Regions from separate parts of the Homo sapiens genome. Here region 1 is linked to region 2. The links come from fine-mapping of genetic effects on gene expression. Tissue or cell type: whole blood. Region 2 holds a variant in brackets; the other region holds the start of a gene. All regions are shown on one strand. Distances are from middle to middle. Region 1 holds the start of NUDT7 (nudix hydrolase 7). Region 2 overlaps LOC107984878 (a long non-coding RNA gene).

What was found. PIP is the estimated chance that this variant, and not a neighbour inherited with it, causes the effect.
Region 1: it holds the start of NUDT7, and the variant in region 2 is fine-mapped to the expression of NUDT7 in whole blood (TOPMed, PIP above 0.99).

What each region holds. Positions count from the first base shown.
Region 1 is chr16:77,716,344-77,728,591 of GRCh38, forward strand. It overlaps NUDT7 (nudix hydrolase 7), which reads left to right and starts at 6,171. Exons shown (of 4, transcript NM_001105663.3): 1 at 6,171-6,274; 2 at 9,088-9,241. The coding sequence starts at 6,240. RefSeq lists an enhancer at 6,009-6,303 and a silencer at 6,017-6,146.
Region 2 is chr16:77,748,245-77,760,492 of GRCh38, forward strand. LOC107984878 (a long non-coding RNA gene) reads right to left here. Exons shown (of 6, transcript XR_002957866.2): 5 at 9,143-9,208. Among named protein-coding and RNA genes, the nearest start is that of NUDT7, 32 kb to the left of the region's middle. The variant T/C (reference allele first, on the strand shown) is at 5,168.

The DNA of each region.
Region 1 (12,248 bases), 32 kb before region 2:
TTTACTGCTGATATCCCAATGGGTGTACACCCTGGTTGTACATCCACTGTGATATTATTTATAATATCTTTGATATAATGGCTAATATCACAGTGGGTGTACACCCTGTGATATTATTCATAATAACATGGAAGCCGTGTGTAAACATTGGATATTATAAATATCAGAGTGATATTTCATTAATATCACAGTGTGTAAACATTGTGTTAACACAGTATGTTATAAATATGAGAGCAATATTTCATTAATATCATGGTTTGTAATCACTGAGTGTAAATACTGGATATGATAAGTATTAGAGTGATATTTCATTAATATAACAGTGTGTAAACAGTGTGTGCAAACACTGATATTATAAATATCGGAGCAATATTTTATAAATATCACAGTGTGTAAACACTGGATATTTTAAATATGAGGGGGATATTTCATTACTATTACAGTGTGTAAACACTTGATGTTATAAATATCAGAGTCATATTTCATTATTATCAACGTGTTTAAACACTGTGTAAACACTGATATTACAAATATCAGAGTGACATTTCTTTAATATCACAGTGTGTAAACACTGAATAATATAAATATCAGAGCGATATTTCATTAATATCAATAGTGTGTAAACACTGAATATTATAAATATCACAGTGATATTTCATTAATATCATAGTGTGTAAACACTGTGTCTAAACACTGGATATGATAAATATTAGAGCAAGATGTCATTAATATCCCAGTGTGTAAACACTGTGTCTAAACACTGAATATTATAAATATCAGAGTGACATTTCATTAATATTTTAGTGTATAAGCACTGGATGTTATAATTATCAGAGCGATATTTCATAAACATCACAGTGTGTACACCACTGCCATTATAAATATCATGGCGATATTTTATTACTATCACAGTGTGTAAACACTGGATATTATAAATATCAGAGCCATATTTCATTACTATCACAGTGTGTGAATACTGAATATTATACATCTCAGAGCAATATTTCATTAATATCACAGTGTGTAAACACTGGATATTATAAATATCAGAGCCATATTTCATTAATATCACAGTGTGTAAACACCGGATATTATAAATATCAGAGTGATATTTCACTCACTGAATATTATAAACATCATCAGAGAGATATTTCATTAATATCACTGTGTGTAAACCCTGAATATTATAAATACCATCAGAGAAATATTTCATTAATATCACAGTGTGTAAACAGTGGATATTGTAAATATCATCACACTGATATTTCATATATATCACTGTGTGTAAACACTGGATATTACAAGTATCATCAGAGTGATATTTTGTTAATATCATAGTGTGTCAATATTGGATATTACAAGTATCATCAGAGCAATATTTCATGAATACTACAGTGTGTAAACACTGGATATTACAATTATTATCATCAGAGCGATATTTCATTAATATCACAGCGTGTAAACCCTGGATATTACATGTATCCTCATCAGAGCAATATTCATTAATATCACAGTTTGTAAACCCTGGATACAATAAATATCAGAGCGAAATTTCCCTAAAATCACAGTGTGTACATCGTGGATACTATAAATATCAGTGCAAAATTTCCCTAGTATCACAATGTGTAAATCCTGGATACTCTAAATATGAGACCGAAAATTCCCTGGTATCACAGTGTGTAAACCCTGGATTTTATAAATATCAGAGCTAAATTTCCCCAGTATCACAGTGTGTAAACCCTGGACACTATAAATATCAGAACAAAATTTTCCTAGTATCACAGTGTGTAAACCCTGGATACTATAAATATCAGAACAAAATTTTCCTTGTATCACAGTGTGTAAGCCCTGGATACTATAAATATCAGAGTCAAATTTTCCTAGTATCACAGTGTGTAAACACTTTGTGTAAACACTGGAAATTATATGTATCAGACTGATATTTCACTAGTGTCACAGTGTGTAAACCCTGTGTGTAAACTCTGGATATTATAAATATCAGAGCGATATTTCACTAATGTTACAGTGTGTAAACGCTGTATATTATAAATATCAGGGTGAAATTTCACTAATGTCTCAGTATGTAAATACTGGATATTAGTAATATCAGAGAGAAATTTTACTAATGTCGCAGTGTATAAACACTAGATATTACAAATATCAGAGCGAAATTTCCCTTGTATCACAGTGTGTAAAAAGTGGACACTATAAATATCAGACCGAAATTTCCCTAGTATTACTGTGTGTAAACACTGGATACTATAAGTATCAGAGCGGTATTTCACTAGTATCACAGCGTGTAAACACTTTGTGTAAACACTGGATATTATACATATCAGAATGATATTTCACCAGTATTACAGTGTGTAACCACTGGAGATGATAATTATCAGGGTGATATTTCACTAGTATCACAGTGTGTAACCACCGGATATTATAAATATTAGAGCGATATTTCTTTAATATCACAGCATGTAAGCCCTGTGTGTAAACACTGGATATTATAAATATCACAGCGATATTTCGCTGATATCACAGTGTGTAACCACTGGGTATTGTAAATATCACAGTGATGTTTCACCAATATCACAACGTGTTACTAGTGGATATTGGAAATATCACAGCGATGTTTTGCCAATATCACAGTGTGTAACCACTGGAAATTGTAAATATCACAGTGATATTTCGCCGATATCACAGTGTGTAACCAGTGTGTAATCACAGGATATTGTAAATATCAGAGCAATATTTTGCTGGTATCACAGTGTGTAAACTTGATACTGTAAATATCACAGCAATATTTCACTGATATTACAGTGTGTAAACACTGGATATTGTAAATATCACAGCGATATTTCACTGATATCACAGTGTATAAACTCTGGATGTTGTCAATATCACAGTGATATTTCACTAATATCAGAGTGTGTAAACACAGGATATCGTAAATATCACAGCAATATTTCAGTGATGTCACAGTGTGTAAGCACTGTGTGTAAACACTGGATATTATGAATATCACAGCGATATTTCATTAGTATCACGGTGTGTAAACACTGGATATTATAAATATAACACCGATATTTCCTTAATATCATGATGTGTAAACACTAGATATTATAAATATTGCATCGATATTTCATTAATATCATGGCGTGTAAACACTATGTGTGAACACTGGATATTAGAAATATCACAACATTTCATTAATATCACGGTGTGCAAACACTGTGTGTAAACAATGGATATTATGAAAATCACAGCGATATTTCATTAATGTCACAGTGTGTAAGCACTGTGTGCAAACACTGGATATTATGAATATCATAGCGATATTTTATTAATATCGCAGTGTGTAAGCACTGTGTGGAAACACTGGATATTATGAATATCACAGCGATATTTCGTTAATGTCACAGTGCGTAAGCACTGTGTGTAAATACTGGATATTATGAATATCACAGTGATATTTCATTAACGTAACAGCGTGTAAGCACTGTGTAAACACTGGATATTATGAGTGTCACAGTGATATTTCATTAATTTCACACGGGATATTATAAAAATCACAACGATATTTAACATCATAGTGTGTAAACACTTTGTGTAAACATCGGGTATTATAAATATCACAGCGATGTTTCATCGGTATCACAGTTTGTAAACCTTGGATATTATAAACATCACAGCGATATTTCATTTATATCACGATGTGTAAACACTGGATACTATAAATATCACAGCGATGTTTGCTTAATATCACGGTGTGTAAACACTGTATATTACAAATATCACAGCCATATTTTATTAATATCACGGTGTGTACACACTGGATATTATAAATATCATATTGATATTTCATTGAGGTCATGGTGTGTAAACACTGGATGTTGTAAATATCTGTGATATTTCATTGATGTTATGGTGCATCAACACTTGATATTACAAATATCACAGAGACATTTCATTGATATCACAGTGTGGAAACACTGGGTATTATAAATATCACAGCGATATTATATTAATATCACGGTGTGTAAACATTGTATATTACAAATATCAGCCATATTTTATTAATATCACAGTGTGTAAACACTGGATATTATAAATATCACATCGATATTTCATTGATGTCACGGTGTGTAAACACTGGATGTTGTAAATATCACAGCGATATTTCATTAATATTTCATTTCATTAATAATTTCACAAACTGCCCCACTGACCTAGGGCCAGCCACAATATTACTTTCATGGGCCCTAGCTACTTTGTTTTTGTGCACCCCTTCTTCCATAAAATAATTTTAAAGTGAATATTTTATGACTGAATTCATAAAATGACTATCATCCAAGCTGGATTCATTATTATATATTGCTTTTATTACATACCTTTTCTTCTTCTAATTTAAAAAGAAATTACAATTAAAACATTTTCACAGGTCCCTAAAATTACTGTGTGTGTCCTGTGCCTGTAAGGGAGAAGTCAGCCCTACACTGACCCCTGGATTCTCAGCTCGCACCAGGCTCCCTCACACACACTGTTCTCCAGCCCCTTTCTGCTGTCTTTGCACAAACTTTGCCCTCTTCCTTGAACACTCTCCCTTGCCTTTTTCCTCATTTATGTCCTCTATCCCGCACAGAGCATCAGAATCCCCTTACAGCACAGATCACTGGGCCTGACACCTGGCTTCTGATTCAGCAGTTGTGACATGGGCCCCAAAGTCCACCTTTTCTTTTCTTTTCTTTTCTTTTCGTCTTTTTTCTTTTCTTTTCTTTTCTCTTTTCTTTCTTTCCTTTCTTTCTTTCTTGGTTTTTGTTGTTGTTGTTGTTGTTGTTTTGTTTTGTTTTGTTTTTGAGACAGAGTTTCGCTTTTTTTTGCCCAGGCTGGAGTGCAATGGCGCGATCTCGGCCCACTGCAAACTCCGCCTCCCAGGTTCAAGCGATTCTCCTGCCTCAGCCTCCTAGTAGCTGAGATTACAGGCGCCTGCCACTGGCTAATTTTTGTTTTTTTAGTAGAGATGGGGTTTCACCATGTTGGCCAAGCTGGTCTCAAACTCCTGACCTTAGGTGATCCACCCGACTTGGCCTCCCAAAGTGCTGGGATTACAGGTGTGAGCCACAGCGCCTGGCCCAGAGTCCACATTTTTAACAGGACCAAAGTGATCCTGATTCTGCTGGTCTGAGGACCACACTTTGAGAACTACTGCTTTCAAGATGAGCTGCACTTCTATTTCCTCTACCAAGCCTCTTCTGTCTCCTAATTGGGTCACATTTCTCCTTCACACGCTCTAGAAGGACCAAAGGCCACTGCTTTATCAGTGTGATTTTTTTTTTTTTTTTTTTTTGCATTAAAAACTTCTTATCTTCTTCTTCTTATTTTTGAGACGGTCTACCTCTGTCAGGCTGGAGTGCAGTGGTGCTATCACGGCTCACTGCAGCTTCGACCTCCTGGGCTCAAGCGATCCTCCCACCTCAGCCTCTTGAGTAGCTGGGACCACAGGTGTGTGCCACCACGCCTGGCTAATTTTTTATTTTTATTTTGTAGAGATGGGGTTTCGCCATGTTGCCCAGGCTGGGCTCGAACTCCTGGATTCAAGTGATCCTCCCCTCTTGGCCTCCCAAAGTGTTGGAATTACAAGCATATGCCACTGCATCCAGCCCTGTGTGATTAATTTATGTTTCTACCATTTGACTGTGAGCTCCACGTGTCTTTTCGCTAGCTGTGGGATCTGCACCCAGTGCATACAGGTGGTCGGTGAACAGGTGCTGACAGCAGTTCCAAAAAGTTGAATGAATCACCTTAACCTTCCAGCAACAGCGAATGCGAGTGTAAAATATTATCACCTCACCAACACTGTATTTTTTTTTTTTTTAACTCTTCCAGCTCTAAATTCCACAACTCCTCCTATACCTCTTGCTTCCATAGAAGCCCAAGGAGCCCGGCAGAAACTGCTTTGAGCAACCAGGAACACCCGGCCCTAAGTCCCGCCCCGCGCCTCTCCCCACCTCAAGTCCCGCCTCTGGCTATAAGCCCCGCCCCGCCCCGATCCCGGCCTCCGATCCCAGATCTCGCACCGCCCCGCCCCCTGTCTCCGCCCCAGACACCACCCCGCCTCGTGCTCTAAGCCCCGCCCCTCTCTCTGGCTTTAGGCCGCTCCCAAGCCCAGAGCTGCTCTGCGCAAGCGCGACCGACCGAGCAGCTCCGAGGAGTCCGCCCGGAAACAAACATTCCCCAGGGCAATGTCACGACTTGGTCTTCCCGAGGAGCCAGTCAGGTAAAGGCTTTCCGGGCCCTGGCACCCCGAGCTTGGTCAGGCCCGGCCTTGATCGTAGCGGAGGCCACCGGGGCCTTTTGGCCGGGACTGATTTTGCAGCTCCCGCCAGTCCACCTGCGAGCGCCGGATGGGGGAGCACTCGCCTCCAGCAACCCGCAGGGTCCCCGAACCTTTGCACTGCTCTGGCCAGGAACAGAGCCGGCTTAAGCCAGTATGGTTTACATACACGCTGCTCCCCTTCCCAGCCGGCTTGGCTGTTCTGCAATCCGCGTCTCCAGAGTTGGACCCCAGGACCCCCGACAGTGGCACAGACCCGCAGCAGGCAGCCCCGGATTCAAGTCCCCCGGTGGCTACTTTCAGTTGTGACCTTGGGTCTGTCAGTTTCGTAAACTCTCTGAGCCTGGAGGTGACCCTGTGATCACTTGCCGGGCTGTTGTGAGGATAAAATGAGAAACGTCAAAATTGAGACCATGCTCAGAACGGGGTGGCTGCTACTGCTGTTGATACCTTGGTGATTATTCCAGCGGCCAGCCCCTAAAGTGGACAGATAACGTTTTTGCAGCCTTTTACTTTGGCTGGTTTGTCTGGTCAGTTCTGTGGTTTCCGGGTGGTTAAAAGCCACCAGCCCACAGTTTCCTTTTCTGGAGGCTGGCCTGCGTGCATCCAGATGCACTGTGCAATCCCTGTGCCAGCATTCACTGATTTTTTTCAGGCCATTTGGTCTTTGAAATACACTGCCGTTACCCAACCACATCTGGTGAGCACCCTGCCACCTAGAAAGAGGCAAAAAATAGCAAATACCTCCTGCAAACAACTGCTTATCTAATGATGGGGAGATTTATGACAGTGGTTACCATTCCCTGAGCACCAGCTGTGTGCCAGCCACAGTATATGAACTGCATCATTTAATCTTCTTAAATATCCTCAAGCCTGACACAAATGAAGATGAAACTCAGAGAAGTCATTTGTATACACTTTTTTTTTTTTTTTTTTGAGACAGAGTCTCACTCTGCCGCCCTGGCTACAGTGCAGTAGGCAATCTCGGCTCACTGCAGCCTCTGCCTCCTGGGTTCAAGCGATTCTCCTGCCTCAACCTTCTGAGTAGCTGGGATTACAGGCATGTGCCACGATGCCCGGCTAATTTTTGTATGTTTAGTAGAGGTGGGGTTTTACCATGTTGGCCAGGCTGGTCTCGAACTCCTGACTTCAAGTGATTCACCTTCCTCAGTCTCCCAAAGTGCCGGGATTACAGGCATGAGCCACTGTACCAGGCCTCCTATATACATTTGAAGCCAATTCTGGGTATCTTAAATAGCTGATTCTGCCCACTATGCAAAGCTGCCTTCCCACAGAAAAAGTAAAATCAGCTGTTCCTTTTCTAGGGCTGCCATAACAGAGTACCACACACTGGGTGTTTTAAAACAATAGAAATGGTCTCTCATGGCTATGAAGCCTGGAAGTCCAAAATCAAGGTATCGGCAGGGCCTCACTCCCTTAGAAGGCTCTGGGGGTGACCTTTCCTTGCCTCTTCCAGTTTCTGGTGGTTTCTGGCATTCCTTGGCTCACAGCAGCATCACTTCAACCTCTGCCGCCATCTTCACATGGTCTTCTTCCCTGTGTGCATCTCTCCATGTTTTTTCTTCTTTTATTTTATTTTATTTTTGAGTCAGGTCTCACTCTGTCACCCAGGCCGGAGTGCAGTGGTGCAATCATGGCTCACTGCAGCCTTGAACTCTGGGGCTCAAGTGATCCTCCCACTTCCGCCTTCCAAGTAGCTGGGAATACAGTTGCATGCCCCATGCCTAAGCTAATTTATGCTTTTTTTTTTTTTCTTTTGTAGAGACAGGGTCTTACCATGTTGACCAGGCTGGTTTCAAACTCCTGGGCCCAAGCAATTCTCCCGCCTCAACCTCCCAGTGTTGGGATTACAGGCGTGAGCCGCTGCACTGGGCTCGTTTCTGCTTCTTATCAGGACAACAGTCATTGGATTTAGAGCTCACTTTAATTACATCTGAAAAGATCCTATTTCTGAATAAAGTCACACTCTGAAGTTTGGGGTAGACATGAATTTCAGGGGTGAGGGGATACTGTTCAACCCACTATACAAACTAGCAGTAGAACACACCTGTCAAAAGGACCAAAACAAGTCCACATAGGAAGGGCACCATTTGCGGTTTTAAATCCAAATGCTTGCATATTATTGGGAAATTGTTCTCAGAATGTGTTCCCCTGTCCACAGCGTCAGTAACGCTGTCATGAGGGAGTTTGATACAAATGCTAATTCTCAGGCCCTACACCAGAGTTACTGAGTCACAGTCTGGGACTGAACCTCGCAGTCTATGTGACAGCCAGCGCTCCAGGTGATTCTGTTGCTGCTAAAGCTTGGGAACCACTATTATAAGCAGTTGAAGACATAAGAGTTTGAGAACATAAGGGCCAGCTTAACAGAAGGTAGTCTTCTAACCTTCTAACCTTAACAATGACTTTTTCATCAAACCTGTCTTCTCTGAATATAATTATGGGTTTCAAAATTCAACTGTTGCATTATTGAAAAAACATTTTACCATACTTTATGTTTCAAAGAGAACCTGTGTACTAAACTGTGTGCTTAGAAGGTTTTTTTGTCATTTTCATCTTGCGAACAACCACGCAATTTAGATAGTATCATTTCTGTCGTGTTATTGAAAAATACACAGAGAGTCAGAAATGGCAAACTCCTAAATACACAACAAAGCAGAAACAGAGGCAGGACTATAAGCTTTTTACCATAACTCTGCTTGCTAAAATGTCTGTCTGGTTTGTTTTTATTTTAGAAACAGTTTGCTAGATGATGCTAAGGCCCGCTTAAGAAAGTATGATATTGGAGGCAAATATTCTCACTTGCCATATAACAAATACTCCGTCCTTTTGCCATTGGTGGCTAAAGAAGGAAAACTCCATTTGTTGTTCACCGTCCGGTCAGAGAAGGTAGGTGGACAAAAAATTTCCTGCCCTTAAACCTCAGGACATCAGAAGACCTCACGAGATTTTGTCACTTGCACACACTTTGATGCCAAAATTCTCAAAAGGGCTTTCAAAATTGTGATGTCAGAGGCATACAACCACAAGCCACAGGATAACATGGTGTTTCTTGGAGAAGGTTTAACAAGAAAATGAAGGAATTTAGCTAGCAAGCAGTTTAAAACGCTTTCACACTAGGGTTACCTAACCTTGGTGCTATTGGCATTTGGGGCTGAATAATTCTTTGGTGTGGAGGCTGTCCTGTATAATGTGGTGTGTTTACCATCATCCTTGGCCTCTACCCACCAGATGCCAGTAGCACACACAAACACAAGCTCACACACACCTTTGTCCCTTTGTCCAGTATGCCAGTAGCACACACACCACAAATGTCTTCAGAATTGCCTACTATCCTGGCAGGATTGGGGGTGCCAAATTGCCCCCCACCAAGGGCCACTGTTTTAGACTATCCCACCCCCAGTATAATGTGAAAATACTAGAGCATAGAAGTTAACGGCCTAGGCTCTAAAGCTAGCTGTCCACGTTGAATCCAGGCTCTCTCCTTGCCAGCTGTGACTTTGGCCTCGTTACTTGCCCTCTCTGTACTTCAGTCTTTTCACTTGTAAAATGAGGACAAAATATTAGTAACTGCTTCATACAGCTGCTATGAACATTTCACAGGGTAACAAATGTAAAGCACCTATATAACCCAGGTACTTGGCAAGGAAGAATTCAGTAAGTTTTAGCTGTCATCGTTAGTGTCAAGTGACCTGTCAGACATGACCTGAAGTTTTAAGATAAATGATGTCACTTTACAGAAATAATGGGCTGGGAATGGAGTTTCTGGCTCACCCCTTGTATTGGTCCATTCTTGCATTGCTATAACGAAATACCTGAGGCTGGGTATGGTGGCTCAAGCATGTAATCCCAGCACTTTGAGAGGCCAAGGTGGGAGGATCACGAGGTCAGCAGTTCGAGACAAGCCTGACCAACATAGTGAAACCCCATCTCTACTAAAAATACAAAAGAATTAGCCAGGCATGGTGGCACACACCTGTAATCCCAGCTACTCAGGAGGCTGAGGCAGGAGAAACACTTGAAACCAGGAGGCGGAGGTTGCAGTGAGCCGAGATTGTGCCACTGCGCTCCAGCCTGAGGAACAGCGAGACTCCATCTCAAAAAAAGAAAGAAAGAAAGAAAAAGAAATATCTGAGTCTGGGTAATTTATAAAGAAAAGAGGTTTCATTGAGTCATGGTTCTGCAGGCTGTACAGGAAGCATGACACAGGCATCTGCTCAGTTTCTGGAAAGGCCTCAGGGAGTGTACCATCATGGCAGAGGGGGAGCAGGAGCAAGAGAGAGAGCAGGGAAATACCACACACTTTTAAATGGCCCCGGATCTCATGAGAACTCACTCACTATCATGGGGACAGTGCCAAGATGATGGTGCTAAACCATGCGTGAGAAATCTGCCCCTGTGATCCAGTCACCTCCAACCAGACCCCACCTCCAACACTGGGGACTCCAGTTCAACATGAGATTTGGGCAAGGACAAATATCGAAACTCTACCACCCCCACACCCGTGAGCACAGTCAGTTTCCCTTGCTGTGGGGAACTTCCAAGGAAAAGCTGGTGAAGCAGTCATTTTAAGCTTATCCAAGTACAAAAAGAAAATAAGCCATATTAACAGGCTTTTTAAGCAGAATAATGAAAAGTATTTTGTTTAAAAAAAAAATGCCAAGGAATCAGCTGGAGTTTTGTGGACGTGGAAGTAGACTTGTGTGGATTGTGTTCGGTCTGAGCCAGGCAGAAATGCCGTGAACTCAGGACATGATAGAAATCCAGGTTCCAGGGGGAAATACTTAAATGGAAACCAGGGGACCAGTGTCTGTTCCCACCTCTGCCAATAAGCACAGGAGAAGCACTTACATATATTTTTTAAAATTATCAGATATGGCCGTGTGCGGTGGCTCACGCCTGTAATCCCAGCACTTTGGGAGGCTGAGGTGGGCGGATCACCTGAGGTCAGGAGTTCGAGACCAGTCTGGCCAACATGGCGAAACCCTGTCTCTACTAAAAATACAAAAAATTAGCCAGGCGTGGTGGTGGGTGCCTGTAATCCCAGCTACTGGGGAGGCTGAGGCAGGGAGAATCACTTGAACCTGGGAGGTGGAGGTTGCATTGAGCCGAGATCGTGCCACTGCACTCCAGCCTGGGCAACAGAGCAAGACTCCATCTCAATAATGAATAAATAAATAAAAATAAATAAATAAATAAAAGAGAATTGTCTAACAAACAATAATATAGGAAATCTAGACAATACTACAAACTCAACCAACGGGGTCTCTAGTTTCTTTTGTTTCACCCAGAGCCACTTTTGCCTGTTGATTATTAAGGTCACTTTTTAAAAACTATTTAAATTTAATTCAATCTGATTGTAAACACTATCTGGCTGTAGGGGTGAGAAATTCCCTCTGGAGCTCTACTGGAGCTCTGCCCCTCACACAAGCAGGGCGCTGGTAGGAGATTTCCCCCCAGTGGATGGGGAAAGCAAGGCAAGAAGTGGGTTAACCCTTCTCAAATGTGCAATCTCCCACTAGCTCTGGAACCTCGAACAAGTTTTTCTTTTTTTTCAGAAGGATTCTCGCTCTGTCGCCCAGGCTGGAGTGCAGTGGCGTGATCTCAGCTCACTGCAACCTCCGCCTCTTGGGTTCAAGCAATTCTCCCACCTCAGCCTCCCAATTAGCTGGGATTACAGGTGCACGCCACCACGCCTGGCTAATTTTTGTATTTTTAGTAGAGAGGGAGTTTCACCATGTTGGTTGGCCAGGCTGATCTTGACCTCCTGATCTCAGGTGATCTGCCCATCTTGGCCTCCCAAAGTGCTGAGATGACAAGCGTGTGCCACCACGCCCAGCCTGCAAAGTTCGTAAATCTCTTAATCACCTCGGTTTTCTCATCCCTAAAATGGGCC
Region 2 (12,248 bases):
AAGCCATGTGAAGACAGAGGCAGAGATTAGAGTTATGTTGCCGCGAGCCAAGGAACACCAGGAGCCACCGGAAGCTGGAAGAGGAAAGGAAGGGTCCTCCCCACAGCCTTTGGAGGGAGGGTGATGCTGCCAACGCCTTGATTTCAGATTTCTGGCCTTCAGAACCGTGAGATAACAAATTTCGGTTGTTTTAAGCTACCAAGTTTGTGGCAAATTGTTAGGACAGCCCTAGGAAACTACACAGCCCCCTTCTGAAACATCTCTTCATTTTGAGAAATAGCTCTGCCCTCTGTCTTGGGATTACCATGGAAACAGGACATTGCTGACCTCCCAGCATAAACTCAGTTAATCAGATTTAGTCCCTCAGTAATTCCCTTGGGATTAGTACCAAGCAACAGCAGAGTCTGTCTGCCTGCCCTCCGGAAGAGAGCATATGTGGGTGTTTGTGTTCCACCATTTGCCCTGGGAAGCAGAGAAAGCTTGTCTGCAACAAGAGAGGAGAACAAAGTCAATGACCAGAATGGAAGAGCAATGAAAGTCAGTCGTGTGTTGTGAAGGCATTAGAATCCCTGGATGTTTGTTCTTGAGACCCGGATGTTTCCATGGTTTCCATGAAATGCTCCCACCCTTCGTAGTTAAATTCCCTAACGTGCTTGAGCAAGCTTAGAAAGAGTTCTATAACTTTCACTGGAAAATGTCCTAACATATCACAAACACACGTCTTTATATCCTTCTCTTTTCTCTTTTCTCACACCCTTTTACACTATGGGGACCTTAGGTTCTATTCTTTCTTAACTTAGAATGGACCTATCCACATGTAGAGTCTTCTGGAAGTGCAATATGGTATGGTAGGAAAGACTGAAGACAGAAAACCCAGTCTCCTCTCATCACTAGCTATATGACCCATTGGACAGATTAAGCCCATATGCTAATTGCAAGAAAAATTAGGAAAATAGGCATCTGACATTTTCTCCTCCACTGTGAGAGGCAGACCCGGCTAACAAGGAAGAGGATGATGGGAAACTCATTGTCTGCCACATCATGTTTATTATATTTTATTTTATAAATAGAAACAAGGTCCTGCTATGTTGCAAAGGCTGGTCTCAAACTCCTGGCTCCAAGCAATCCTCCCACCTGAGCCTTCCAAAGTGCTAGTATTACAAGCATAAGCCGCCATGCCTGGCCTGCCTGCCACATATAGAAGTAAAACTGCTCTGACAGTTAAGTATGTGAGGGGGACAGATTACTGCTTGCTTGGCTCTTCTCACCTCTCCCCCACCACAGTTGCCCCCATGACTCCTCTATAGACTGCCTTTAGGTTCTATAAGGAACAAAGAGGGACAATGGAGACCCAAGTCAACTCACTGATGTCTTTGATAACATATGTGTCCTTTGCACCTCTTCTTTGTTGGTCCAGTAAACAGAAGCTAAAGCAAATGTATCAAAGTCTGAATCAACATTCCTGGAGAAGCCTTTGGGTCTGGGCTAGCCCATGAGATAACTGTGAAGCTGTCACAAGACACCCCTGGCTACAGAGCACCTGTAATGTGGCTAGTCCAAATTGAGATGCTGTAGGAGTCAAATACACACTGGATTTCAAAGACTTACTATTGGCTACATGGTGAAATGATAATGTTTTAGAGATGTTGGGTTAAATATAGGGTGAAAATTAATTTATCCTGTTTCTTAGTACTTTTTTGAATGTGGCTACTAGAAAATTTAAATTTACATACATGGCTTACAGTATATTTCTACTGGACAGAGTGGCTCTAGATGACTCATGTGTGGCCAGGACACTAGGACACTGGAGAAGTAATGATCACCCCATGTACAGATACAGTCTGTGTCCTACCCACATCCTTAGGACCCTACCATTGCAGTGAGCTCCAGATCACTTCCAACAGCCAACATTTGCATCTGTGTTCCTGCAGGCTTTTTCCAAAGCCACAGCAGGCCAGCTGGAAGTGACAGGGAATTAATGTCCCCTACATTAACCCTCAACCAATGACTGATGGGATTTTGCATATCAGTAGCTCAGGTTCTTTGCCCCTTGGGTGGGATAATTCTGAGACAGGTGTTCTGTACTTGCTCCCAAACTGAACTAAACTCTGGGTGCCCGCTGTGGTGGCAAGTTTCACACTTCTTTTCATTGGCTGCCTTCCCTTCTTTGTCTCATTTCTCCACTCCCATAACAATGTGCCCTGTAGATTCCAAATAAATAACTTGAATCTTGTCTTTAGGTTTCTAGGTAAACCAAATTAAGACACTCCTATATCTAATCCGTCGCCAAATCGTACTGAATTTATCTTCTGAATATCTATCAAATCTAGTTCTTCTCATCTCTACCGACATCAACTTAGTTAAAGCTGTCATAAACGTCTGAAAACTTTTGCATCTATCTGGTAACTATTACCCTGCACCATCTCTCTTCTATAGCCAGAGTTATTTTTCAATATAAATATCATCATATTTTCTTGAGGCACTCAAATGGCTTCCCATTGTTTTTTATGAAAAAGATGGATGGCTCTTACAAGGCCGTGTCCTGGCTCCTGTCTACCTATCTGGTTATGTGTAGTACCATGAGCCCCCTCCCTGCTCATCCACTCCTACAGCACTGGCCTGTAGAGGCTCAGTTTCAGTCCATGGGTGCCTCAGAACTCTTGCACAAGCTGATCCCTCAATCATTTCCCTTTGCCTGGTTACCTCATACTTATTGTTGAAGGATGCCTTCTCTGACACCTTAGCTAGGTTAGTTCTCCTTGTTATAAGCTCTCTTGGTGCCATGTACCTCTACTTCATAACTCCTGTCATAGTTACAATATGATATCCCCTTGATTCTTTGATTGATGTCCCCTCATTCTCTGGACTTCAACTTCCATAATGGCACAGTCATGTCTCAATTTTGGTCCATACACAAGAGTACTCTTAGCACTTGGCACAACACTGGGTAAAGAGTAGGTGCTCAATGGATATTTGTTAAATAAAAGAGTACAACTAAATGAGAAGTAGCTATTTCTACTCAAATAGCTAATTCAGTGGGCTAAGGAAAATTCAGTCTCTTCCCAACAGACTGCTTGACAAAGGTCAACCTAAGGTGGTCTAGCATTGTTGTAAATCACCCCCTCCTGCATTTACTGTATAAGGTATATAAAGTGCTCTACCAGAGTGGACATGAGTGAGTGGCTCCTATCTTTAACCAGTTTTTGCCTTGTAACTTAGTTATTTCCATACCTAGCTGTCTTGATGTACTATGAACTACCAGAGGAGCAGACTTAGCTCTTCTTTACCCTTCTAGCCTCAATGCTAGCCATATATTTAGGACCCATGCCCCTTCATATCTACAAAAACTTGCCTTAAATCCCCATTGTAATTCCAGTGGAAAGCTCGATATTCTCCCCAAGATTTATTCAAATCCTTCAGAGAGTACCTTTCTTCTAATCACCTTAGGTTCAATTTCCAGCTTCAGTGAATGTTAGTTCTGTATTCTGCATCTTGAGGTCTTTTTCCTTAGTGCCAACCCAAATCCAGGACAGAGACTGCTTCTCCTTGTTTTTCCTAAAGTAACTTGTATGTAAATCATTGAGTGGCTTTAATTGGAGACACAGGGATATCAGCCAGGTAAACTTTGATTGCAACATAAGAGAGCCAAACTTAAATTTGAATATTATGTTTTTCTTGTTCTTTAAAAGTCCTGTCCATTCTACCAAGTTGGGTATCAGGCTGATGCTGTATTCCTCCACATGCTTGTTCTTCCTTTTTGCTTTTCTCTTTGCTCCCACCACCAAAATGACATTCATTTCCTTTTCAGAGGATGGTGTCTATTTGGCTCCATGCATCTCATGCCCACTAGGACCCACCTTCCACATTCAATAAGCTCAGCAGTGAATTTTCCTAAATAAGAAGAGTTTATTTGTGGTACATTGGTTTCAATTACACTTTTTTCTCACTCCACTGGATATTTTTTAATGAAATGACAAGGGTCAAATGAGGACAGCCTTCTAGCAAAAGCCATGGGCACTGAATTGAAAAAAACATGCTGTGCAAAACACATTTGGTGGGTGAATTCATTGATCCAGTAACGAGCTTGATGAGCCTGAGCCTGAGTTGCAGTGAGGGGGGTGAATGATAAGATCAGGAGTGGGACTTGGAGGAATAAGCTGCATTTAGGAAATGAGCAGAAGAAAGGTAGAGCTAAGGCCATGAGGGCCAGAAGAGACGACTGGGGAGCAAAGGACGTAGGTGAGGGAGGAGGAAATGAAGAATTTATACTGAAGGAACAACAAGGATGACTTTTAGGAGGAGGGTGGTGAATGGAAGAACCCTGAGACAAAGGAAGACATCACCAGCCAGGGGAGGTAGGCATTGCCCCTAGTACTGTCCATAAATATGCTCTGTAACCTTGCAGACAGAAATCACAATCTTGCTGAACCTCAGGTTCCTTACGTATAAAGCGGATTGGAACTAGTTAATCTCTAATTCCTTTTCCTTTTGAAATCTCCAATTCTGGGTTTTCCCCAGCCTCATTTAAGCATATCCAGGTAATGAAGCCATTCTGCTTAATGTTTTACAAAGGAAAAATCTGACTGAGGAAAAGAAAAGGATCACTTTTTGTCTACTGTTCGAAGCTAGCAGCATGCATAGAGTTTATTATGTGAAAATGCCATTTGGGGAGGTTAATTAAAAATTCTGACATTCAGATCAGGGATTTGGGTCAGGAATGTACAAGTCCAGGGCTCTGGGTAGAATTAGACAGGCATCTAAACGTTGAACCTTATTAAGTATATAGTTAGGCCTTAGGAGGGGGACATTTGGAAGCTAATATTCCAAACCCAAGCCTAGTTGGCTTTGTGCATTTTGTTTGAATTATGACATATTTAATAGGATTTACCTGCAGAGCCTGTGCTTAACAATCTGTTTCCTTGGCAATGCAATCCTCAAACGGGCAAAGGCCATATGGAAAACATGGGTTATTTGGTAATTTAATAAGTGAGATGAGAGGAATAGTATTTAATTCAACGTACATATTTTTATCCCCTCTATGTTCAATAAGAAAAAAAGAGATCAGCATTAAGTACATAGCATGTACTTAATAAGTGGAAAGTACAATTATTATTATCAGAAACAATTTTTGTACTATGCTTTATATTATAATAGGTGCCCAAACATG[T/C]TATGCTATTTGTCCAAAAACACTCACCAGACAAAATAATTCTTCTTAGTAGTCCCAGAGGCGTTATGCTTCAGTTTGTTTTTCTCCCTCTTTGCTCCCTGCACTTCATCAGCAAGTTTGTTCATTCTGCTTCTGATTCACACCCTAAATGCATCCTGTCCCCCTTTCCACCTGTAGCACCTGGTCCCAGACTCATCATCCCCCTCAACCCCTTACCTCCCCTGCACCTATTCTTGCTCCTTATATGCCCTTCTTCACCCAACATCCAGAGTGATCTTTTGAAGTCATGAATAAAGTCATGCCGTTTCTTGGCCTAAAACCTTCTAGTGTCGTCCAACTGTGACTGACTTTATTTTTTTCTTTCTTTATTTTTCATTTCTGGTAGAGACAAGGTCTTGCTATGTTGCCCAGGCTGCCCTCAAATGATCCTCTCTCATCTGGCTCCCAAAGTGCTGGGATTGCAGGCGTGGGTTAGTGCGCTTACCCACCTGTGCCTGTAATAAAGTTCAACCTTTGTCTTTGGTTGACAAAACTGGCACATTGTGGACTCCGCCTACTTCTGACCCTTCTTGATCTTGGCCACTGAACTTCCTTCAGCTTGTGCTTCTTTCTCCTGTTGGAAACGCTATGCTTGCCCCCACCATAGTGCTCTTGCACTAGATGCCCCTCTCCCAGCAATTGTCTTCACCCTGGTTTTTGCATGGATGGCACTTGTTTTATCATCAGTTCTCACTACACCTGTCGTTTCCTGGAAGAGTCTAACGCTGATGTCATTCTCTCTCATGCACCCATATTTTACTTCCATATCTGGTATTTTTTGGGTACATACTTGGTTTTTTTTCCTATCTCTCACACTAGAACACAAGCTCTGTGAGTGTGGGGACTTTCAATTATATTTTATTTTCCATTAGGAATTCAATAAATAAGTACTGAGTGGATGAATGAATTAATTTGGCTGAAAACTAGATGGTCAAGGTCATTTTATTGCCAAGAAGTAGGTCAATACAAGAATGAAATCACAGTAATGATTAGGTAAAAATAAAATTCCCAAGCACTGCTACTTTAATTTGTATTATTTTTTAATACTGATGATTTGTTTCATCATGGGCTAATTTTAGTACTATTCATGCATATTTAATTATGTTTTAGAATTATTCATTTTTTTCTATTTTAAAGATTGTCTAATTTATTCTCAGCTAATTAGTCCAGCTTTATATTTGTATACATTAGGAAAAATTGAAGGCAACCTAGACACCAAACAAGTTGTAAATGGTTTAAATAAATTATGGTAAATTATAGAAAGATATATATGATTTCATTTTTGTCAGTTTTATCCATACTTCTCTATTTGTAAGGATATTCATAGAGGTGTTAAAAATTGTCTTCTCAGGGAGGAGGTTGGGATTATAATTATCACTTACATTCTTTGTTTTTTGGTAGTTTTTATTTTTGGGGGGCTTTTTTCCTAATTTTTCTACAATGTGTACACACTGCTTTAATAATCCATAAAAGTAATTTTAAAAACAAAGTTTTGAAAGGATATAAAATATAAGGACTTGGAATGTCTGAGTATGAGGAGTTTTTTTTTTTAACTTAAAAACACAAAATCCCCTCAAAACAAAAAACCTAATCCCTAAATTAAAAAAGATAGAAAGCAAAAATTCAAATTCTGAAACTAGAATTTTCAGGGACTGAATTCACCTAAGGTGATCAGAGGGAGGCCATCGTTGGCACATCTTTGGAGTACATCAGTTTAGCTGCCCAGGCCACACTTTAGTAGAATATTCATGGCTGCGAGACCATCTTCCTTCCCTTTCGTTCTCCCTCCAAGTCCATTGCTTGCGTGCGCCATAACATCACCCCTCTAACCCCAGTTTACTATATTCACACCTGCAGTAAAAAATGGCCACATATAAAACACTCTGAGAAGTTTGAGAAAGTTTTCTAAATGTAAGGAAGATATGTGAGGCTGTGGCTGCTCCCTCTCTTGGGTATCTATTTTCTTTAACCGATTCACATGGGGGCTGAGCCATGTACCAGGAAGAACATTGCAACTTGCCAGCATTGGAGTCCAGCCATGCGCAGGCATGTTGGAGCTTTGTAGGGTATCCCGCTATAAACAAGATGCCAGAAGCACAAGTCCCCTTGGGTAAAATCAACCTGAAAGGAATAAAGCCTGGGATAACAAGCTGAGTCTGGGCAGAAGAACCTGAGACTGAAAGGGAAATCATTATATAAGATAGACTGCGGTGGCTGGTATTTCTTGTACTGCTTTAGCAGTTCCTATGTGCAGCCTCAGGGGAGAAAACAGAGATCTTCATACAGATAAACGTAGGAAGCCTCTGTAGGGCTCTGAGGTTCTAAACACGTGCTTGTATTAAACAATTTTGATGTATCTCCCCAGACCATCCCCTATGACTTGCTTATCAAGACAGGAAAAAAATCGTTCATCATTGTGCAAAATTTCAAGTCCACTAAACGATCACAAGCATCCTGACCTGAAAATATGGATTTAAATTACAGAAAAATATGAGAAATTATTTGGGAAAATATTATAAATAAGAAATAGTCTGAGCCATCATATTCAGAAGACATGTGTCTCTCATTCTGCAGATTTTCAGTACAACACTAAGAGTGCGTCGTTTCATGGGACTTGTCGATTTTGAAAACCTTCATTCTCTGCCCACATTGAGTAGGCAACTATTTCTCCATGGCTTCCTCTTCCACACCCACTTCTACTAGAAACAGTTGGGTCTAAAAGGACCCAAAGAACAAATGAAATGGACGATTACATATATTCATAGAGTTCTGTCACTTGGCTTCTTGTTTACTTGTCCTTATAATCCTATGTGCCAGACTAGAATGGCAAGCTCTGTTGTACAGTGAAAGATTTGGTGAATTTCAATGCTTGCCCAAGAACACAAGGCTACTTAAGTGAGGATTGCTATTACAGAACCTATATTCCAGCCCCACTAATGTTACATTTCCCATGAAAGACCAAAAGAAGAGAAATCAGATGTGTTAAGGGCTTGGTGGTAGCTGTGTTTTTCATCTATACAGCATGTTTTCATATTGCCTTTGGCTATTGATCATCAGTGAATTTCCAAGTTATGTGTGTGGATAACATGATTTGTTAAGCATGTCTGAACTGGATCTCTGTCTCTTGCAACCAAAGGAACCCCAATATCAAATACATTTACAGCAGTGGAGAAATATAATGCAATTTATCCATTGTGCCCTGAGATTTCCAGGCCATACTAAGTTCAGAAGACCCCTATGAGTGACATTTATTTAAAAAAAAAAAAAAAGGCCGGGCGCGTGGCTCATGCCTGTAATCCCAGCACTTTGGGAGGCCGAGGCGGGTGGATCACAAGGTCAGGAGATCCAGACAATCCTGGCTAACACGGCGAAACCCTGTCTCTACTAAAAATACAAAAAATTAGCCAGGCGTGGTGGCAGGCACCGGTAGTCCCAGCTACTCGGGAGGCTGAGACAGGAGAATGGCGTGAACCCTGGAGTCAGAGCTTGCAGTGAGCCGAGATTGCACCATTGCACTCCAGAGCCTGGGCAACAGAGCAAGACTCCTCAAAAAAAAAAAAAAGAAAAGAAAAGAAAAGAAAACAACAACAACAACAAAACTAAGCAGATGATAGAATAGAAATCGACTGCTGAAGAATTCTATCATTCCCTATCACTACTTGAGGCAATCCGACAAAATTCATTAATTTTAGCTTCCAGTTAATAATAACACATCAGGAGAGAAGCTCACTAATGAACTTTTTCATTTGGAACATGAGGCGATCGATGTTTGTAGGGCATGTAGCACTCTTAAATTGACACTTATATTCAGCTAGTAGTGGGAAAATAAAGTTGTGTTTCTTGGACTAAACTCATCAGATAAATTCTCTTGGCTGTAAGTATTTAGACCTCAGGGTTAGCTAAAACTAAGCAATCAGATTATCTTGAGATACTCACATTTTTCAGATAATTGTTCCCATATAAAATTTCCCTCGTCCTCCTCTGCAGTTGATCTTGGATGAGCTAATGAGAAATGAACCATGCAATATGTTATTAATTTATTGGGTTATCCTCCATTACCCTAAAGTTGATCAATAAAAATTAAATCATTAAGGGGCCAAAGTATTTTTAGAAACAATACCCAAAACACCTGGATTATAGAATTCTGTTCACAAGTTTAAAGTCCAAAGGAAAGAATGCATCCCACCCCTACCAGCACTTCCATAAAAACAATCCTCCAGCTGGGCGCGGTGGCTCACGCCTGTAATCCCAGCACTTTGGGTGGCCAATGCGGGCAGATCACAAGGTCAGGAGATCGAGACCATCCTGGCTAACATGGTGAAACCCCATCTCTACTAAAAATACAAAAAATTAGCCGGGCGTGGTGGCAGGTGCCTGTAGTCCCAGCTACCCGGGAGGCTGAGGCAGGAGAATGGCAAGAACCCAGGAGTTGGAGGTTGCAGTGACCCGAGACCGCACCACTGCACTCCAGCCTGGGCAACAGAGCGAGACTGTGTCTCAAAAAAAAAAAAAAAAAAAAAAAGATTAAAACTTGCTACCCAAAGTTTACTTTTCCTTTCTCCTCCTAACCTCTGATGATCTTCAATAATTTAGAAAAAATGCAAAGATTTCTCTTTATCTTCTATGCCATAAAACTATAACCCAAACAATACCAAGAAAAAGCTTGCTAATATAGGGCTTGTTCATTCAGAAGCTGCAGGAACTCTGTGGCAAACTCGTATGTCAGGTCACTTTGTTCCATCTGGGACCATAAGTCCACTAACTCATAAAGAACAATAGCAGACACTGTGATTCTAAGAGAATTGGTCACTTTCATCACAGCATAGAATGACCGAAGCCTTGTGTAGATTCGTTCCATTCCTCACCGCCACTCAGCATCAGTGTAACCATTCTCAGGCAGCAGAAGAAGAGACCTGCCAAGGCTGCATAGCTGGCGATGGATAAAGGATGTGGCTCCCTTTGTGGCTGATGTTTGGCTCTTGATACCATTGCTGTCCCTCTGTAGTTATAGATCTGTATCTAGTCTCTGGATCTAGATCTAGTCCTGGATTTGGAGCTAGTCTCTGGATCTGAATCTAGTCCTAGTTCTGGATCTAGTCTCTGGATCTGGATCTAGTCTTGCTTCTAGATCTAGTCCTGGCTCTGGATCTAGTCCTGGTTCTGGATCTAGTCTCTGGATCTAGATCTAGTCCTGGATTTCGATCTAGTCCTGGTTCTCAGTCTAGTCCTGGTTCTGAATCTAGTGCTGGATCTGGACCTAGTCCTGGTTCTGGATCTAGTCCTGGTCTGGATCTAGTCTCTGGATCCAAATCTAGTCTCTGGATCTGGATCTAGTCCCCATTCTGGATCTAGTCCCCGTTCTGGATCCAGTCCTGGATTTGGATCTAGTCCTGGCATTGGATCTAGTCTCTGGTTTTGGATCTAGTCCTGGATCTGGAACTAGTCTTAATTTCTCCTCCTATTTTTGCCTTTTCCTTGCTCCTTGGATTTGCTGACTGCCCTTAGCTTCTCTGATCTGACCCTGTGGGGTCTCTTACAGGGCTGATTCATACTCATGCACCTTCCTCTACATCCTCTCTACCACCAACAGGGAGGCAAGGCCCTTCCTTCTCCACCCTCTCAGCCCTCTTGTCTGCGCAGGGCTCACTCTGCCTTCTGAGCGTTTGGGCTGTCACTTTCCCTAAGAAGATGCCCTGATAAAAACTCTGGTTCCTTTTCAGCCTAGGTTTAGCAAGTCCAATTTCTGTCCCTGGTAATATGAGCATGTTTCATTGGAGGATGAAAATCTCCATTTAGCTGGGATCACTAATCTTTCTGCAAAGCCCCATAGCACATGTATATTATCCATGATTTCGAAAAGGTAGTAAAGTTAAAAAAAAAAAAAAAAGTAACCCACATATGTTGGAGTTACACAATTCTAGTCCCATGTGGGTGTGGCCAAAGCCATTAATCCTCTAGGCCTCCATGTCCTTATCTGTCAAACAAGCATTAGGATGCCTACTCTGCAGGGTTGCTGGGAATAATGGACATAATAAAAGTGTGAGGCCTCTGGACACCTGACCAGGAGGGGCACTGAATCATTGGTGGGATGAACATAGGTCCATCCTGGGCACTTCACTCATGCCCATCTGATTTGTGTCCTTAAAACTCTGTGCACACTGAAAATCAACAAAGAAAACAGTAGAGTTAAACTACACACTCCATCTAGTAGGCCTAACTGATATTTACAGAACATTTTACTCAAATGCTGCAGAATACACGTTCTTTTCACCTGTACATGGAACATTCTCTAGAATAGACCATATCTTAGGCCACAAAACAAGTGTGTACAAATTAAAAAAAAAAAAAAACAGAAATTATATCAAGAATCACAGCTGCCTCTCCAAAACTCTTTGTTTTGATCTGTCTCATCTACATTTGGCCATTGCTATTTTATTGCTACTCAAAGTGATGTCCCTGGACAAGTAGCAACGTCCTCACCCGGGAGCTTGCAAGGAAATGTGGAGCTTCAGATTCTTCCCTGGACCTAGTGACTCAGCATCTGACTTTCACCAGATCCCCAGTGATTCCTGTGCATACTGAAGTTCGAGAAGCACTGCTCTATTTCACACTTCCTCTATAATTACCATCTGTCATTCCTGTCCTATTATATCTGTTATCTGATGTATTAGGCTCCTATTGCTGCTGTAACAGATTTCTGCAAACTTAGCAGCTTAAAACAATACAAATGTATTCTCTTGAACTTCTGGCAGCCAGAAATCTGAAATCAGTTTCTTGGGCTGAACCCAAAGTGTTCGCAGGACCGTGCTCCCTCCGGAGGCTCTGGGGGAGAATTTGTTCCTCTGCCTTCCAGCTTCTAGCACTTCATTTCTTGGCTCATGCCTCCTTTCCCCATCTCCAAGCCAGCAGTATAGCACCTTGCTTCAGTATTCACACTGCCACGTGGTCCCTCCTCTTACCATCCATTAAAAGGACAGTTGTAATTACACTGAGGGCCCACCTGCATATTCCAAGATAATCTTCCTATCTGAAGATCCTTAAC